2 separate regions of the Homo sapiens genome follow, and region 2 is linked to region 1. Evidence: fine-mapped expression QTL. Tissue or cell type: whole blood. Region 1 holds a variant in brackets; the other region holds the start of a gene. All regions are shown on one strand. Distances are between the middles of the regions.

The links. PIP is the estimated chance that this variant, and not a neighbour inherited with it, causes the effect.
Region 2: DENND2B starts here. The variant in region 1 is fine-mapped to the expression of DENND2B in whole blood (TOPMed, PIP above 0.99).

The regions. Positions count from the first base shown.
Region 1 is chr11:8,775,425-8,785,297 of GRCh38, reverse strand. All of the region lies in intron 1 of DENND2B (DENN domain containing 2B), which reads left to right. It overlaps DENND2B-AS1 (DENND2B antisense RNA 1), which reads right to left. Exons shown (of 5, transcript NR_120590.1): 2 at 1,090-1,279; 3 at 1-142. Among named protein-coding and RNA genes, the nearest start is that of DENND2B-AS1, 12 kb to the right of the region's middle. The variant G/A (reference allele first, on the strand shown) is at 5,966.
Region 2 is chr11:8,806,212-8,816,084 of GRCh38, reverse strand. It overlaps DENND2B (DENN domain containing 2B), which reads left to right and starts at 5,411. Exons shown (of 20, transcript NM_213618.2): 1 at 5,411-5,568. It overlaps DENND2B-AS1 (DENND2B antisense RNA 1), which reads right to left. Exons shown (of 5, transcript NR_120590.1): 5 at 5,809-6,008. RefSeq lists an enhancer at 9,488-9,873.

The DNA of each region.
Region 1 (9,873 bases):
CAATCAGTTTTTAATGTAAAGAAAAGCTGATGATGGTTTTTCATTGACACGGCAAATTCAGGATTTGGGGCCTGGGGATGAAGCTGACGGTCTGTGAAAGTGCAGGCAGCCAGCTCCTTGGATGAGGTCCAAGTCCAAAAGCCTAGGGGTAAAAGTAAAAGGATGGCTTAATTTCAATGGACACCCGTGGCATCTTAGATGTTGTACCTTCCTGTGGCTTCTTAGCAACTACTCTACCATGTGGCGGCTGTGTTAGAGGGGGTACTACATCCAGAAAGAAGACACGTGCCAGTAGAACTTCCATGCTGCATCATAGGTGGCCACAGAGCCATTACTTCCCTGTTTAGTTTCAAGTTGTAGATGTTTCGTATTTGCCTAAACACAAGATCGGCTTATGATTACCCGCTGGCTTACCAGCCCACTTTTTTTCTCACTCTGTTTCTTTTCTTTTTTTTTTTTTGAGAAGGAGTCTTACTTTGTCACCCAGGCTGAAGTGCAGTGGCACAATCTCGGCTCACTGCAGCCTCCACCTCCCAGGTTCAAGCCATTCTCCTGCCTCAGTCTCCCAAGTAGCTGGGATTACAGGCGTGCGCCACCACGCCCAGCTAATTTTTGTATTTTTAGTAGAAACAGGGTTTCACCATGTTGGCCAGGCTGGTCTCGAACTCCTGACCTCAGGTGACCCACCCGCCTCGGCCTCCGTAAGTGCTGGGATTACAGGCATGAGCCACTGCACCTACCCATCTGTTTCTTCAGCTTCTCATTATCTCACCAATTCTAGAGAAACAGAGTTGCTGGTTGTGTAGGCTAAACTAAGGCCACTGTGATGTCATTGCTTTTGTCTCCTTTGACACCCTTTTTTTTTTTTTTTGTTACTGGGTCTTGTTCTATTGCCAAGGCTGGAGTACAGTGGCACAGTCACCACTCACTGCAGCCTCGACCTCTTGGGCTCAAGTGATCCTCCTACCTCAGACTCCCAAATAGCAGGGACCACAGGCATGCACCTCCCTGTCCATGCCTGGCTAATGTTTTTTTTTTTTTTTTTCGGTAGAGATGGGGTCTCCCTGTGTTGTCCAGGCTATTGGTTACCTTCTTTATCATAGTTCAATCCTGAGGGTGTTTCCTTGGCCTTCTGAATGTGTATGAGGGATGGGATCTGAAAAGTCTCCTCCTCTGGGGCTGATCTTATGACAGACTTTATGAAGTTCTACCCAAGAATCTTTCCTTCGCTCACACACTTCGCTCACCAAAGGAGCTGGTCCTGTGGCAGGTTCAGAATCTGTGAAGTGAAAAACGTATTAAAATTTTGTATGGAATTTGAGAACTGTGTAGTTCTGTCTGTACTCTCTGCTCTTCAGTCACAAACAGCTCTCCCAGCTGTCCTCCTCACTCTTGCCTTCTTTGTTCTTGTTGCTGAAAATGCCCAACCTGGATGAAAACCTCTAAGCCTTGCTCTTCCTCCTGGCTCTTCGTTTCGGTAGAGCTTTTGTTATACTTCTGTCTATGATATCTCCCTCTTTTTCTGCTTACCTTTTCCGTTATTTCAAGTAAAACTCATCTGCTATTACCAGATTGTCCTTATTTTCTTTTTGCGTGAAATTAACTAGCTTTATTGATTTTTCTAATAAAAGAAATACATGCTCATTGAGGAATATTTGGACAATAACAAAAAATATTAGGAAGAAAGTAAAAGTCACATAATCCCCTATAGCATAATTATTGTTAATTTGTGGTGTATCTTGTCCTTTGGGATCTTCTTCATATGTGTTAACATATATTGCTTTTTCCCCCAAAGTGCCATCATTTTTCACTTATATTTTGTAACCTACTTTTCTGACTAATATTACTTGGATATATTCCACAGACAGTACATACAGAGCTACTCTATAATGTTTAATGCTGCATAGAATTACATTGTATGGATGAATTGTTATTTAGTTAACCTGACGATGGACTTTTGGGTTGTTTCTGTTATTAATAGCTATGTGGGCCAAAGCAGGAGGATTGCTTGAGGCTAAGAGTTTGAGACCAGCCTGGGCAACGTAGTGAGATGCTATTTCTAGAAAAAAGTAAAAAATTAGCTGGTGTGGTGCTACATGCCTGTAGTCCCAGCTTTTCAAGAGGCTAAGGTGGGAGGATCACTTGAACCCAGGAGTTGGAGGCTATGTTGAGCTGTGATTGTGCCACTGCACTCCAATCTGGGCAATAGAGCGAGACCCCATCTCTTTGGGAAAAAAAAAAAAAAAAAAAAGGTAAGTGGTGGCAAATATCTACATATCTGTATAGCTGTGCCTACTTGTATAACTTCAGGATAGTTATTGCTAGAAGTTTCTAAAAATGGAATTACTGGTTCGAAAGCTATGTAATATACTTAAATTATTTAACAATATCTTTTTTTTTTTTTTTTTTTTGAGACAGAGTCTCACACTGTTGCCCAGGCTGGAGTGCAGTGGCGTGATCTCGGCTCACTGCAAGCTCTGCTTCCTGGGTTCATGCCATTCTCCTGCCTCAGCCTCCCGAGTAGCTGGGACTACAGGCACCCACCCCCACGCCCGCCTAATTTTTTTGTATTTTTAGTAGACATGGGGTTTCACCGTGTTAGCCAGGATGATCTTGATCTCCTGACCTCGTGATCTGCCTGCCTTGGCCTCCCAAAGTGCTGGGATTACAGGCGTGAGCCACTGCGCCCGGCCAACAATATCTTTTAAAACTTGGAAAAGTATATGGAAAAGTGAAAGGTTAATATAATAAAAATCTATGTACCCATCATCCAAATTTCATAAATGTAACACTGTACCATATTGGCTTCAGATCTGTTAACATAAATTTTTTTTAAGTTTGACAAATATGTACTCATGCTTGGAGGCTCAGGAAAAAAAATTGGACAAATATGACTAAAGCTTTCTGCAGTCCTTTCCTCCTCCTGATACTGATAAAAGCCTCATTACTGTGCATATCTTATCCTTTTACATACATGTGTCCATAAATAATGTATAGTATTGTGTTTTAAAATGTTATACACATGATACTATTCTTGCAGGCAAACCTTTTGCAGGTTGATTTTTTTTCATTCAAAGTCATTTCTAAAAAGTTTTCATGTGTAAAATCATTTGGTTTAATTGGTGTATAATGCACCATTATATGGCAGTGAGAAATGGTTAAAGTCTAATTTTTGTGTATTACAGACACTATTGTAATGACTGTGCAAGAGTTTGTGTACGCCAGCTACCTAGGAATGGAAGTGATGTGGTGGGGAGTATGATTCTTTAGCTTTACTAGGTAATTCCAGATTGTTCTCTATAGTAGTTGTTATGTGTTTACCACCAATGTATATAAGTGTTCATTTCCCCTTATTTTTGCTAACACTTGGAGATCCCATGCTTCTCAGTATTTTCCAGTCTAAGTATGATATAATATCTCATCACTTTAATTTGCATTTTCCCAATTTATCAAAGAGATTGAGCAATATTTTATTTTCTTTGAATTCTCTGTTCATATCTTTTACTTATTTTTCAGTTGGGTTTTCGTCTTTTTCCTTTAGAAGTTCTTAATATGTTCTGATTTTTAATCACTTGTCAGTTATGTGCTCTGTAATTATTTTCTTCCTGTCTGTGGCTTATCTTTTAACTTTGTATAGGTTATCCTTGTGAGGTTATGTGTGTGTGTGTGTGTGTGTGTGTGTATTCCTAAATTGTTTTCCAGAAAAATTATACTGGTTTACAGAACATCCAACAGTATATGAGAGTGCCCAGCTTGCCACACCCTGCCTGACTCTGGGAATAGTTTTATCATCTTGCCCAGTGTAATAGACAAAAAGTGGTATTGCCCCTTCTTTGGTGGCTTTTCCTAGAACATTCCTACCTCTTTGTTATAGCCAAAAGCTGGCTTTTCCCTGAAGATCTTACTTTCCTTGTGACCCTCTCCAATGAAGCCACCTCACCTCCTCCCAACTCTCGCTCTGAACTCCCCACGTTGCTTCCAAGCCCGGGCTGGCAACCTTTCCCATGAGAAGTTAGTCCCTCCTCTGCTCACTCTTGGTGCCCTTACCTGCCTATTGACTTCAGGCTAACTGTTAACAACCTTCTTCATATGTCCTCTTTTTGGCATAATTAGGATTTGAGGATTCATACTGAGAATCCATCAATGCTCCGGCCTCACAGTCCCTCCATCCTTCCAACTCTAAGGACTTCGTCTTTATTCCTCTTCGGGTACCTTTGGCTTTATCACTTGGAGCAGTTTCACTTTTAGGATGCTGAACTCGGAGATTCCCTTCCCTTCCCTGGTCTCCTGTCTGTTTCCACCTCCCACTCCTTCGCTGTCCCCTCCCAAGAGCTGGCTCTCCAGCTCTTCTCTGCCTGTGTAGCCTCTTAGCCACCCTGGCCACTGCCTACTGATTTTTCTGTTCAGCCTGAGCTTCAAAGGTAGAAATTCTCATCCTGCACTTGCTGCTTACCTCAGTTCTCTCTCTCCCTTGTCCCTCCTGTGATCATTAGCCCTCGTGGACCACTTGAACAGATTTTTCTGCCGTAGCCCCTAGACCTCTGAGTATTGCTTCATCTTTCAGAAGCATAATCTCTGACCCATCATTCTTTTCTCAGAAAACTTCTGTGATTCCCCAGAGAAAAACTAAGATCCCTGATTTGGCTCTCAGAGGCCTCTAAGAGCCGACATGTCTCTGTCTTTCCAACTCTCTTTCTCCCTGGTCTACTTTCAATTAAACTCCCATCAGACTGACAAACACTTTGTTGTCCTTCATACGTCTTCTGCTTTCCTGCTTCCAAGCCCTTGTGCATGTAGTTCTATCTGTGTAGGAATACCCCTGTATTCTTTTGCCATTTGATCTTCCAGGCCTAGCACAAGGGTCACCCTCTCTGTAAAGTGTTCTTGATCCTTTATTTGGAAGTAATCTCCTTCTACCTAAGCTTCAACATTGTATCTCTCTAATGGCATCTCTCTAGTGGCACTTAATTTCATCTTTCTAATGGCACTTAAAATAGTCTTCCTGGTATTTATGAGATTTATATGTCTATTGTATTCACCCTACAGAGTGGAAGCTCCTTGAGGATGGACCCATACCTGATGCATTTGGTGTCCAAACAGCACTAAACATATTGGCTTATGCATGGTTGGTGTTTGGTGTATATTAGCTGAATGGATGCATGACTGTAAGTATGAATGGAAGGAGGAAAGATGGTTGTCCTGGCTTCCAGGAACCATAGTTACAATTTCATACTGCCCCCCTTCTCCTGCTCTAGCGAGAAAAGAATCAGACTCACAGCTTGACCCAGGCCAACACAGGAATAGTTCAAGCTCCTGGCCCACACTGCACCTGGGGGAGCCTGAAGCTTGTCCTACCGTGGGAGCAGGAGCCTTGAGTACCAGGAATTTCAATGGGATGTTTTTGAGTTTAGGAAGTTAGGCTGGCTGCATTCCATGACATGCAAGGGAGAGGATTTTGGAGTAGCACAGAAAATGGAAACCTTGGCCGGGCGTGGTGGCTCACGCCTGTAATCCGAGCACTTCGGGAGGCTGAGGCGGGGCGGATCACCTGAGGTCAGGAGTTCGAGACCAGCCTGACCAACATGGAGAAACCCTGTCTCTACTGAAAATACAAAATATTAGCCGGTGTGGTGGTGCATGCTTATAATCCCAGCTACTCAGGAGGCTGAGGCAAGAAAATCACTTGAACCCGGGAGGTAAGAGGTTGTGGTGAGCCGAGATTCCACCATTGTACTGCAGCCTGGGCAACAAGAATGAAACTTCGTCTCAAAAAAAAAAAAAAAGAAAGAAAGAAAGAAAGAAAAGAAAGAAAAAGGAAACCCCGAGCATGCTTTTGGCAGAGGTAGGTGCAGAGAGGCTGGAGAGCATGGTAACCCAGAGGGGAGGGTTCTGTTTTTACCAAGTCACACCACTTTCCTTCCTCCATACCTGCTAGGGCTGAGCCTCAGTTGAATGTGAGAAAAAC[G/A]CTATGGGTGTGATATTTGCCACTCTCTCTGCCTTGGGACCTTGAGTCATAGTCTCATTCTTCATCTCAAACAGTCTTCTGTCTCATTCTGTCCAGCTACTGTTTGTCCTTTACAGTCTGGCTCACATTTCCTCTCCCACAGAAGCCCCGTCCAGAGCTGCTCTGTCCCCTCCACCACTCCATTGTCCTGTCTTTCTAGTTTGTGTCCCACACTTGCATCGTTTGCTGTTGTGTCTCAGTGCCCTACATTCGTCTGTGAGCTCCCCACATGTAAGAATCACATCTCATGTTTTGTTCTCTCAGCTAAAACAAAGTGGTGATCAATAATTACTGTCAATGTTATTAGGGAGCCTGCTATTGGAACTTGGAAGATTATCAGTAGCAGAAAAACTGAAGTGGGAATGGAAAGACGTGAAAGTAGAACTTAGCCTGGGCTAGTTCTCCAGAGTCTTGAGTCTGGGGAGGAACTGCCCTTTCATCTTTACCATGGGTTTCTTGAATTCTGGCTTCTGAAGCTCTGCCTTTCGACAGTAATCAGCATTTAGGCAGGTGACAGAATCAGGTGTTCAGGGTGTGCCCTCCAGGGAAGAAGAGAGAGAGGTGATGGCCGGCACCCCATGCAGCAGTGACTAATGTGGGCCAAACTGGCACCATGCCTCCCAGCCCCCGGGTACGTGGGAGCTGTAGGCACACATGGTAGATTGGAGCTGGAGGGATCATTTACCAGCCCTTCCCTGAGCTGGAAGCAGGCGGGGAGCAGCAAGCCAATTGGCAGACTTGCCTTTTCTGCCTTAAAGTACTTTGTTTCTGTTGCTAACAACAGACATGGGTAGTATAAATAAAACACAGACACACAGGCACATAGACACATGTGGAGACTGAATATTTGAGCTGTCAGGGGCAGGGGGAGGGTGGATGTGGACGGGGACTGAAATGTGTGGCTAAGCCTCTCAAGATAGTGTGCACTAGGTCTTCTCTTCAGCCTTGGAGATGGGTGTAGTGTAAGGGGTGGCTGTGTGGAAGGCCCCCTGAAAGCAGTCAAGTAGGAAGTGATACTGTCTGGATGCCACAGGCTTCAAAGACTAGGTGCTCGTTATGGCTGGATGCAGTCCTCATTAGGCAGACTCTTTCGAGCTAGTTGCTGGTGATCCAAGGGCCAATGGTAACTTCTTTCCTTCTGTTCTGCCCTTTCAAGGCTTGACTCATTGATCCCCGTTAGTGCTCACATGTGGTATAATGGTCAGCAGCTGCTGTGGCCTTTCTGGCTGACCTGAGCTGTACAAGCCAGCATGCCTAAATATGTGACTGTTGTTTTGGGTAAGCTCCTGAAGGATGTGAGCTTCCTTAGTAGAGACTGAGACCCATTCAGCCTCTCTGGAAAAGATGGTCTTAGTAGGAGGCTGAATAGTTCATGCTATAAAAAGCAACAGCTAAGTCACATGTGAGATAAGCTTATTCAGAGACTTGAGGTTCAGGTAGATTACAGGGAGGATGGATGATGAGGAAGACTGTGAGTCTCCACTGCTGGAAATATAAGTAGGGATGGGTTAGGTGTTCTCTCTTTTTTTTCCCTGGGTTGAACATTATATTCCCTGGTATCTAAGATTACATCAAGAGAGCCTCTTCTGGTTCTGGGAAAAAGAATAACTGTATTGATAGGAATTTTAGAGCACTCCCAATGTGTGTAGCTTTGAGCACTTGATTCACAGATATCTCTGACACTTGGGATGATCATCTGATGGTGTGGGCATTTGGAGTAGCTCTTAGCTGGTCTCTCTTTTCCATCTTACTGCTTTCTTGGACCATATGTGACAGGCCTAAGGAATGTCCAACAGGAGGTACCTTTGGTCCATATGAATACCAAGTCAGTAATAGTTCCAATCTTCTAGAAGCAGTGAGACGCCACTCCAGTCTGAGGGTGAGACATGAAAAATATGTGGGCCTTTTCCCCAGTCATTGATATAGCAACATTTGTCTCCCCTGGGCAGGGGGAAATGAATTAGGATTACCCTCTGGGTTGAGCTTACAAGTCTGTCTTAGGATCTCTTTTTTACCGAGGTAGCCCTCTTGGCTATCCAAGGTGGGGTGCCTGGGTGGGGGTGGCACACTGGAAGCTCATAGCAGCTGCTTCTCTCCAGGCACTGTAACTCACTAGCAGCTTAGGACTAGATGTGAGGCATGTATCACGTGGCATTTGTTACTACAGGAGTTAAAGGACCAAAGTAATCTTAAATGGGTTACCTATTCTTATAATTTAGAAGGTATGCAAGATTATACCTATAATAATAGCAAGCCCATTCACTCTCTCATAAGCTTTCTTAAATAAGAGAGGGAAGGGTGGAGTTACTCCTATGGTCAGAATTGCAGATTACCCTTTTTCCCTAAAGAGGCCTAAGGGTTGGCTCCCATGTGACCCCCATCATCTCTGTAGTCAAGTAGCATCAGGCCTAGGAACCCCTAAGGAGATCATTCTCTCTCTGTTCCCTGGCTTAGGGCAGGGATGTGAGGCTTTTGCCTGGCACTAAGGAGAGGTAGTTGACCATGGCTATTATTGAATGAGGTTGGACCCAGCCTAGCTGATAAAATTCTAAAGCAAGATGGGGCAGTGCTACCCAAGGTGGTCACAGAGAATGAAGGTTCTTATAATAGAATATATTCTAAGCCACTAGGCCGTGGTGGCTTCTTTGAAAGGTTGAAGTCTTGAAAGGTAAGAAGACCCCATCTAGCTGGGTTTCATGTGCTGCCCTCACCTTACCCCTACAAGTGGCACAGCAAGCTGCCTGCGATGTCTGGTGGTTGACTCTGCTGCCTGCATGGTTCAGGTGAGCAGAGCAGTTCATGTTGAAGCCCCTCCCACCGGTCAGGAGCCTGTAGGACTGTGTTGTTTTCCTTCCTGTGTCCTCAGTGACTGGGCTAGTGTCTTGCACAAGGCAGGTGCTTGGTCATTGTTTGTGGATTGAATGGCTTCTCAGCCTGAGCTTCAGGGGACCTTGGCCTGGGCCTTGGAGCATACTAGGAGTTGGATAAGCAGAGAGGAAGAAGGAGAGCACTCCAGGCTGCCAGTGATTTGAGCCCAGAAACATGGGGCAGAAATGGACACGTGGACATGTTTGGAGCAGAAGGTGTCCTGCCTGGAGAGAGGTAGGTGTGTGTGTGTGTGTGTGTGTGTGTGCGCGCGCGCGCGTGCGCGCACGTGCGTGTCTGTGTGCATGTGCAAGTCTGTGTATCTCTGTGTGGGCAGGTCTGGGGAGGGTGGTAGGGCCAGGGCTGGCTGAAGAGGGAAGGAAGAATTGGAAAGTGAGATTGGTTGGAACCAATTAAGGGAACCTGAGTCTGGTGTGATTGGCGGTTAAGGAGCCCAGAAGAATGACATGATGATACTGACATTCCAGGATGCTTAGTCTGTCACTTATGAGCAGAGAGGACTGGAGGTAGAAGAATAAAGGGGAGCTTGTCATACAATAATACTGTTTAACATTTATTTAGTGCCTCCTATGGGCTGGCACTGGATAAAGTGCTCTCTGTATAACCAGAGACCATTGCAGTAAACTAGGTATGAGGTGATAAAGTGGAGAAAAATTTCAAAGAAGATGACATTGTTTCTTCATATTTGGCTATATTTGGCTCTTATTTGGTTAAAGAAGAAATGGCTCCAAGGACGTCTTCCTCCTGGGTCCTGCTTCCGGCAGCGTGTCCTTGAGCATGGGGCTGTTAATCTGGCCTGGTTGGAGCTGCTGAGATTTTGCATGCTCCCTGCCAGGAACCAGTGTCCTTGGGTCTCAGCTGGGGTGTGTCCCCACCCCAGCCATCTGGAAGGTCAGAGGAATTAGCCACTAGAATGTGCCCATTAGTGGCTTTGAGGGGTTACAACCTGTCAGTGGAATCTGAAGCCCGGGAACTGCCTCTCT
Region 2 (9,873 bases), 31 kb before region 1:
TTGATCCCAAAGTAAGGAATGACTTGAAAAGATTTACTCTGTTCCTGTGTTTTCAGGTTCAGAATTTCAGTTGTCTTTAAAGAGACAAGAAAGTACTATAAACCCCTCTAGTGACCTAATCCAAAATCCGATTTACATATATGTATTTTCTTGTACAATGTAGGTCCATCCACTCAAATTCCCTCACCTTAAGAGAGGAAATAGCTGTTTCTGTTTGTTTGTTTGGAGAGTCTTTTCAATGATTCGTTTATCTCACACACACTTATTGCATACATTGAATGAAATACTAAAGTGGATACACCTCGAGGAGCTCAGGTCTGTGGGGGAGACAGGTGTGCAAGTAACAGTGATAAAGTGATATCAACGCTATAGTAAAGGCATCTTTAAACTGCTGTTGATTTGCAGAAGAGACAAACAGATTCTATCAGGAGATTGAAAAATATTTTACAGAGGAGGTGATAAATGAGTTGGACCTTGAAGGCAGTAAGATTTTGTTAGTGGGGGAAGGAGAGGCATTCAGATAAAGGTAACAGCATGAGCCATAGAGGGAGGGAGAGGAAAATGCAGGCAGTGTTCAAAGAACCAGGCAGTGCACTGTGGTTGTGCCTGTAATCGGGTGGTTGGTAGCAGGGGAGGTGTGGGCAAGAGATGAAGCCAGAGGATTTCAGATTTGGGTGGGAGCGTAGGCCAGAAGAGGGAACGTTGGATGTAGTCACACTGCTGTTGGTGTTACTTAGACCTTCATTTTTCCACCAGACTGTAGTGTTCAAAATTCTTTTTAGTAAGAGAACCCTTTTTTTCTGAACTTTTTACAACCATCTCCAAATTATGAAACATAAGACTTTTTTTTTTAGTAAAAATGTATTTTTTTACAAGCACAGTGTCTTGCACCATGGAGGGGAGAGGAGGTGTTTTGTCCTTGGAGCTGCTGGCCTGAGAGAACCTTGTCATCGTGGGAGCTGGGCCATTCCTACACAGTGGTCTGGCAATGACCCGGTGGTGGTGGAGGCCTGTGAGTGGGCACTGGTAATGGGAGCAGCTGTAAAACCCTGGAGGGCAGCCCCAGGAGAGTGACCTTACCAGGAAAGTTCTGGGAAACAAACCACAGGGAGGCTTTACAGGAATTTTTGGTTGTGCCCACAGGCAAGGCACATGAGGAAAAGAAATGTAATTATAGTTTGTAAGTCGATGAAAAGAGGCAATGAGTGACATGAAATAGCTGCTCTAAGTTTCTTCTTCCTGTCGGACAGGAAGAAATGGGGTTTTATGCATTTCATTCAGCAGATATTTATTGAGTGCCAGCTGTGAGCTGGGCCCTGCACAAAGTGCAGGGAATATTGGTGGTTAGCAAAATAGTCAAGGTTCGTATCCTAAGGAACTCTTCTGAGGGAAGACTGAGATTAAGCAGATAACTGTATAAATGCATAATTACACAGCATGGTGAGTGCTCTGAAGGATAAGTGTGGGGAGCCTCATTTAGATTGGAGGATTGTGAAAGTCAAGAGACAGGAGAGTCAAGGTGAGGCAAGGTGAGTAAGAGCTATCCAGGCAAAGACTGCTTGGTAGGGGAGTGTCCCAGCAACGGGAAACAACCTGGAAAAAATATGACACCTCAGGGGAACTAAAAGCAGTTGTATGTGGCTGATGCACAGACAGGGAAGGGCAGGAAGTGTGCTGAAAGAAGGCAGGAGGAGAATCATGCTGGGCCTTGTAGGTCCTGGTAAGAAGTTAGATTTTATCTTAAGTGTAGTGGGAAGTCAATGAAGTGTGTTAAGCAGGAAATGACCTGATCTGGTGTTAAAAAAAAAAAAAAAAAAGGTGATTCAGACAGCTCTAATGACTTTGTGAGGGGAGAGTGGAAGCTGGGGCAATTAGGAGGTTTTTGCAATAATTAAGGTGAGAGATGGGTAGCATCAGAGGTGGAGAAAAGTGGACAGATAAAAGATATATTTTGGAAGTAGAATTGTTTGCAGTTGGGAAATGGGTTGGATGTGGGCAGAAATAAGAAGGGAGAGTTGAGGATGTCTCCCAGGTTTCTGGCACATGTATGCTTGCAGGCCTCTCAGTAGACAGCAGAGAGCTTATATAAGGTTGTCAAATCCTTATCCTTCAGAAGGGTCAGGTAGGATTGGTCTAAATCCAGCCTTGCAGAGGCAGTGGTGGGATTCAGCTGTCCCTGACTCTGCCCAGTTCAAGGAGTGTGTACACAGTAGCATTACCCAAGCAGGGATTCCAGTTCTCTCAGTAATGGGGCCCTTCCTTTGTCCCTTCCCCCAGGACAAGGCCCTAAGGAACCTCCATAACTCCAGCATGCCACTAGGGGGAGCATGGCCCGCATTCTGGGTCTGGTTTGGAGGGCTTCTTAAGTTTGGATTACTTCAGGAACTGACTTGTATCAGTTCTAGTACTCAGTCCTGACCCCTGGCCCCTCATACTGCTTAAAAGAATGCCTGGCATATGGTAGGTGCTCAACAAGTGTTAACTGATGTTACTACTGTATTATTAATATTATCTTATTATAGAAAGGGGTGGGATCACCCCTTCTTTCTCAGGATGGAGACTGGGCAAGTGGAATGTGCATTTTGAGGATCAGGAGGAGAGCAGAGGGATGCCTTTTGGACAAGGAAGAGGCGGAAATTTAGTGATTTGATGATACTGCATTTGCCCTTCTGTCTTGTCTTTCTTTGTCTTTCTTTGTAGACTTGGGATTCTTCAGCTGGGGCTTGGGTGGGGTTGGGGATTTATAGTGGGTGATTAGGTTCACTCCCTTTCAAGCTCTGATTGCTTCACTAAAGCAGTAGTGCCCCCCATTTAGGATTTGTGCCATTCTGTCATTTCCTGTTGGATTTTATAACACTTTCCTACCTTAACTTCTGGTATATATTTACCTTTTAAACTCAAGTCAATCAGAATCTTGTTTTGAGAATGTTGTGATATGCTGGAAATTAATGAAAAAAACCCACTAGATTCTGCATAGGATGTTGCATTAAAGATTCTATCAGGCTGGGTGTGGTAGTACACACCTATAATCCCAGCTACTCAGGAGTCTGAGGTGGGAGGATTGCTTGAGCTCAGGAGTTCAAGACCAGCCTGGGCAACATAATAAGACCTCGTGTCAATAAATAAATAAATAAATAACATCAGGACCTTTTTTTTGGGAGCACTGTTTTTGGGAGCAGCATTGGAAAATATCCTCCTTAAGCCTCAGTGTCCTCATCCTGGGGAGGGTATTAACTGTCCCAGTGTTTTTTGTTTGTTTTTGGTGAGGAGTTGTCAAGAGGAGTAAAGTTCTTAGTTCAGTTCCTGACTTGAGAGTGCTTTCACGGACAGCATCTCTTCCGATGCTCAGTCCCAGCCCTGTCAGTAGGCTCTGTAGGTGGAAAGGGGGAAGTCATGGGACTTGCCCAATGGCACATGGCCCGTTAGTGGTGGAGTCAGGCACTGCCAAGGTCTTCTGACCCCTGGTGCTGTTGCAACCACTGTGCTTAATGTACTCAAGAGACTTGAAAGGCTTGGGGATTGTTTCTAGATTTTATTTCCTGGTTCCATGACCTGGGGCAAGTAATTTTACTTCTGTTGTAGAATTAAAAAAAAAAAATCTGTTAAATTAGTATAATAATGCCAATCCTAACTTTCAGACCTGTCATGTTGAACAGACGAGCCAAGATTTTGAGAGTCGTTTAGAAAAGTGCAAGGTCACATATAGCTGTAGGGTAGGGCTTTTTCTCCGAGCTGTGCATCAGGACGTTTTACATCTTAGAGATGCTGTCTTAAGGTCTTTAGGCTGAAAGGATGGTAGTCAGCCTATCTCGCCACAACTTACAAGGATTCTCCACCTTCCCTTGGGAGCCCAGCGTTATCTCATAACCAGTTATCAAAAAGTTGACAGTTTTTGAAATCAGGTGGCAATATACTTTAGTTGAAAGTGTGCTGGACTAGGGCGAACTTGGCTGATCTCTTAGTTCTTTGACTGCCTAACTGTATAAGTGCAGATCAAATGTTTAATCTCTCTGAGTCTCAGTTTTTCCATCTATAAAATGGTCATAAGGCCAGTATGCTGGCTCACGCCTGTAATCCCAGCACTTTGAGAGGCTGAGGCAGGAGGATTGCGTGAAGCCAGGAGTTCAAAACCAGCCTGGGCAACATAGTGAGACCCTGTCTCTATAAAAATAAAAATTAAAAAAGTAGCCAGGCGTGGTGGTGCATGCCTGTAGTCCCAGCTACTTCAGAGGCTGAGGCAGGAGGGTTGTTTGAGCCCAGGAGTTTGATGATGTAGTGAGCTATGATTGCACCAATGCATTCCAGCTTGGGCAATGGAGCAAGATCCTGTCTCTAAAAGAAATTTAAGAAGAATAATAAATAAACTTGAAAAAATGGTCATAAAAATATCTGTGCAGTGTATTTCAAAAGGTTATGAGGATCAAACAAAATGATACATGTAAAAAGAATGTTACAAAGCAGAAATGTATGCTGGGTAGGGGGGAGAGGAAGGGACAGGATGGGGATGGGGATGGGACTAAACTTAGGGGGTCTGCCGTGTCCCAGGGACTGTGCTCATTTTCTGACAGGAGCAATATTATTACCGACTGTGACAGCAGCTCCCACTAAGCCTGCACCTTAGCTGCAGATCCTTAGCAGGGCAGAGAGACAAGGCTGTATTTGTATCAGGTTTGTCGTCTGGGTTGTGACTCTCGACTTGCCCAGGATTCTTCCTGGTCCTGACCGAGTTGTCTTTGCTCTCCATTTCAGGAAGATGAGAGACTGCTTAGGCGCCACCACTAGTACCATGAGTCCCTGCACTGGTTAAAGCCATCGCCACAACCTGGACAGGCAGCAAGGTAAGCAGAGAGGCCAGTCCAGGCGAGCTCCTGGGATGTGAGTGCATTTCCGCCCCAACTGCTGCCCGGAAAAATCCCAAGTGCACAAACAAGTCAAGGCAGCGCATCAGGGTCCCTCCTACCCGAGCTCCAGGACCCAGAGGAAGCTGGGTCCCCTTCAAGCGCTTCAGCTAGCTCCCTCCCCCCTGGCAGGGATTCTTCCAAGTTATAAAAAATGAGACACTGGAGGGGAAGAAAACAAGTCCACTCACTGTCTTCTCCCTTCTCCCCTCTGAGCTGTTCAAGCAAGTTCCCAGGAGCAGTTCAGAGCCCCTGTTGGACTGGAAGGGAGGTAGGAGGAGTGGAATGCATGCAAAAACCGAGCTGATCAAAAGACAGTGCTGTTTCATGGAAGCCTCCCAGAACTGAGAGAGAGAGAGAGAGAGAGAGAGAGAGAGAGACAGTGAGAAAGAAAGAAAAAGAGAGCGCCCTTGTGCACGCGCTAGGCCAAGAGCGCGCCGCTGTGCGCGCGCCCGCCTAGCGAGGACAGGGTCTCCATGACAACCGGCCTGGCCGGCTAGCAGTGCTCTGCTCACTTGGCTGCGAGGAGCGCCACGAAAGGTCAGAGGAAGGAGCTGTGGGAAGCTCGCAGCAGGTATCGGAGCTTAAGCCAGTGGATTTGGGGGCCCTGGGCTCCCTAGCCGGCTGCGGTGTGAGAATGGAGTGGGCAGGAAAGCAGCGGGACTTTCAGGTAAGGGCAGCTCCGGGCTGGGATCATTTGGCCTCCTTTCCTGGCCCTTCTCTCCGGCTGTTTTCTGGGAGTCAGGCGAGTGTCTGTAGTCTCTGCTCGGGGTTTGGGGCTCAGGAATGATGTCATGCTCCAACAGTTGGATTCTATTAGCTTAAGGAGGAGGGAAACAGCCAATTTTCTTGACTTTGCAAATCTAGCTGATCTCACTCTTGCTGAATCTGAGGTGTTTAGACTTCACTCTAAAAAGCATCATTTTACTTTTATTTAGCACAAAGGCACAGGATATTTTTACAGGAAGAATCTTTTATATGGAAAAATCTGAGTTAACATCACTCCCGTGGTGTTTGTAGTTCTTACAGGGAAACTCCAGTGCCTTTTGAGCCGCTTGTTCGTCCTAGTGAACACTGTCTGTTTTGTCTCTTGGTGCTGCTATGTCTGACCTGTAATGGAAAAAAAAAAAAAAAAAAGGCTAATTAAGCTCAGCCAGGAGCCTGTGGTGAGTTCCAAGTCCCTCTAGAGCATTTATTAGGACAGAGGGACTGTCACAGGGATGCCTGAGCTGGGGTTTTGCACTCTCTCTCTTCCAGGCAGCTTGGTAAGAATCAAGCTGTCCTCCCACATCAAAAGGTCGATCACAGACTTTCCTAAGAGGTGGAGGAGGGGGCTGGCTTGGGGTTGGGGGGCCTGCAAACAGGTTTCTCATCCAGATGTCCCAGAGTGAGCTCTCAGCAGCAGCTGCTAAGAGCTGGGGAACATGAGGCACTGTAGTTGTGCCGGGTGGATTCCTTTGGTTACATTTTGACCAAATCTCAGGGCACGCAGTGTCCACGCTGTGCACTCCTACACTGATTGTCCTAAGTTTTGGTAAAACTTGTTCTGACCTAGAGGAGTGGTACATGGTGAGCTGTGTGGCCTTGGAAAGGAGACCCTCCCAGAAAGGCAGTTTTATAGGTGATAGGGTAGTGGGGTTGTCAGTAATATTATGAGGAGGATGAATGCAGCAAACACTTCCTGCAACGGAGACCCATCAGGGGTTGTGCTTCCACTTGAGCCATGTTATGTCTTAAATTCACTTCTTGGCCTCAGGGAACTTTGCAAATGCCTTTGGTTTCTCTGTGGGATGAGGGAACAGCTGCTGTCCTGGTTCTTCAGTTTTTCTTCTTGAACTTTCTGAACAGAATGTCTTTTGTATTCTGGCAAACAATGAGGGGGCATTCTGATTAACTTCGGATCAGCTTGCCAATGCAAGCACTGGCCATGTCCCCAGTTCCGGCTCCCTAAAATGAGTACATGTATACATCGTGGTTGTGGCCTGAGGGTCCACAAGGGTGAACTCCATGGCCCTGGACCTCAGACGGTCCACTTCTGAAGTTATTCCTCTTGCTACATACACTCCAGGGATCCTTTGCTTAGTTGAAACCTACATTTTGCTGGAGGGATGTGGCATAACACTGAGCCAGTGGCCCCTTCAGTTGGCAGTGTAAATCCAGAACCTCAGCCTTCTTTTCTACTTGTGTGTGTAGTTGGAGCTCTTCAATTTTACCATCCCCACATCTGTGAAGAGGGCTAGCAGAGACCCAGTTTCAGGAGCTGCTGCTCCTTCTGTTGGTATAGCAGAAAGAATAATGGATTTGGGTTGCTAGACTTGAGTCGACGGCTAGATTCTGTTCCCATAGGGCGGCCACGGGCAAGTATCTTAACTAATAGGAGCTTCAGATTCTTACCTGTGAGATGGAGGTAATAAGAACAACTTCACAGGACTGTTGGGAGGAGCCAGTGGGATAACTTCCATGAAAGTAGTTTGAAACAAGTCACGTCCTATCTAACGAACCGTGTTGTGAATTGAAGCTTGAGGAATGACCCAACTCTCTCTGGAAAGTCACTTTGCCTCTCTGTTCTGGTTCTCTCATTTTATAAAGTGCCTTCTTCCTTTCTGCATTTATAAGTAAACATGAGAAAAATCTGAAAAGACTTCTTCAGGATGTTTAAGGAAACAAATGTTGCTTTCCTTGGGTTGGGTCGTTTCATAAGAGTGATGTTTGCCATAAAACTGGAGCCTCATAGACGATCCTGCAGGGAGGAAGCTTTCCTTGGTCACCTGACTCATGTGTTTATATATAGTATAGAGGAGAGGTATTCCAAAAGACCCGTCGCTTTTCCTGTGTCCCACAGCTGCCTGTAGAGTTGTGGCACCATAAACTTTAGCAGCTGGAAAAGAGGCCAGGCCTGGTTCCCTCATCCTGCTGGGTCCTGCTGGGCACACTCTGCAGTGGGCAAAGGGGTCTTTCTCCTTCATTCTGGGTTTAGAAGGCAGGGTTCTAACTGGGAGAAAGTGTTATTGCTCCGAAAGGCTTCTTGGGGGCTGGGCAGGTCTTTCAGGAACTCATAAGGCCACAGCTTATGGGGAAAGAAAAAGAAACAAGGAAGTGGGAATTCCAAGGGCAGAGATTCTTGATATGCCATGGGACTGTGCCAAGGAATGGAAGAGCAGGGGAAGGGAGACTCCAGGCAAGGAGAGTCCCAGGTCTGTCCTCATTGAGTCGAAAGGGCGTATGGCATACTAGAGCGCGTCACCCACAGCCCCAGCTTTACTGTAGGATGGGGAAGACCTGCCAGCCATATCCCGGAGTGGTGTCTGGGAAGAAGCCCTTGAGCAGACCCATAGTAGGCAGATTAAAAAAATGAAACAAAACAAGCAGCTCCCCTTCTAGTTGAGTCATGTCACAACAGCCTCTAAGGCCTGAAGGAGAAGCTGCCCACAGCTTAGATTGGGGCTGCAGCTGTTCCCCGACTCCCATCAGTCCGGCTTCCCAGAGCTGAGTCACAAATTGGATCTGTCTATGTTCCTTAAGGATTAAAAAGTAACATTCCTGTTCTCACTCCCTCTTTCCTCCTTCTACTCCGCTTCCTGTACCTTCTCCCCTTGGGCTCTCTCTCTCTCAAATTAGATATCAGTCACCCCGGGAAGATGAAACTTTGAAATACACTGGAGAACAGGCCAAGGACACCCTTGGTTCTGCTGGTTCAGCCTCTTTCCCTGGAATGAAGGGCGGGGTGTACAGATTCAGGAGGGCAATCCAAGTATCATGGCCCCACTGGTAGCCTAGACCTAAGAGAGGCTGTGCCCCACTCCCCACCGCATCTGATTCTAAGAACTGCATTACGGGAGGTCCACCTGGCACCTCAGGGAGATGGGAGGCTCTGAGGCCTGGGCCTTCTGAAGCACCTCCCTGTGGGGCAGTTGGGACTGAAGGATTGAAGAATACATCTTCCTTCCTGTCACTCCTCTTAGCTGTTAACTGTCATTGCCCTGGAAACGTCCCCATTTCCATCGTTGGGCCTAAGAGAGTCGGCCGAGGCAGCCAAGCCCGGGGAACACATAGTTGAGGCTGGAGGAGGCCTGGCAGCAGCCCTTCCGAGCCCTGGCTTGGCCTTCCTTCTGTGCCTCTGCATGGGCTTGGGAGGAGGGTGTGTTTAGGGCAGGCTGCGAGGAGGGGAAGGGGAAATCTGCAGGCAGATAATTGAGTTCTTTGAGTTGGAGGGACCATGGAAAGTGGAGAAGGGGCCAGGAGGGCATAGAGCGAAAAAAGAAAAAGAAAAAAAAAAAAGACCATCTGGCATAGTCTGCAGAGATTTGTCTTTAAAGCCTATGGGAAAACTTGCATTAGTGTGTGCCTTCTCCTGGGGAGGCAGGGGCTGGGGAGGCTAGGCATTTGTTTCATCCTGGAGGGGAGGTGCTATGTGTGTCTGTCTCAGTAGGTGGGTCGGAGGAACTACTGGGTGCATCTGTCTTAGAGGAATATGCCACGTAATATTGTGCTGATAGAAACACCTGAGCTCTCTATTTCTAGCCATAGGCCCCAGAAAGCTCTCCTGGGTGTGTGTGTGTGTGTGTGTGTGTGTGTGTGTGTTTTGAAGGGAGAGGAGGGTGTTAAATGAGTCTAGATTACCTTATTGAAGAATTTCTCCAAAGACCCCTTCTCTTATTTTTTTGGCTCTGATGTCATGAATGTACTGTTGTTGGGGAGGGTGTTGAAACTATCACTATACTCTTCTCATCTAAAACTGCCTGAATGTTAGATTTCACTGTCCTTATAAAAGAGTGAATTATATGCAGTTAGCGTATGAAGCCTTCTTAACCAAAGCAGACCTATTCCTACAGGCTTGTCACGAAACCACCACAGTTTCTCAAAGCTCCAGACTCTTCCTCTGTGTGACCTGTCATCACCAAAGGGGTTGTGTGTGAGCTGGAGATGGACTGTTGGAAATCACATAGTGGATGGAGGATTATTTGGAACTGGGAAA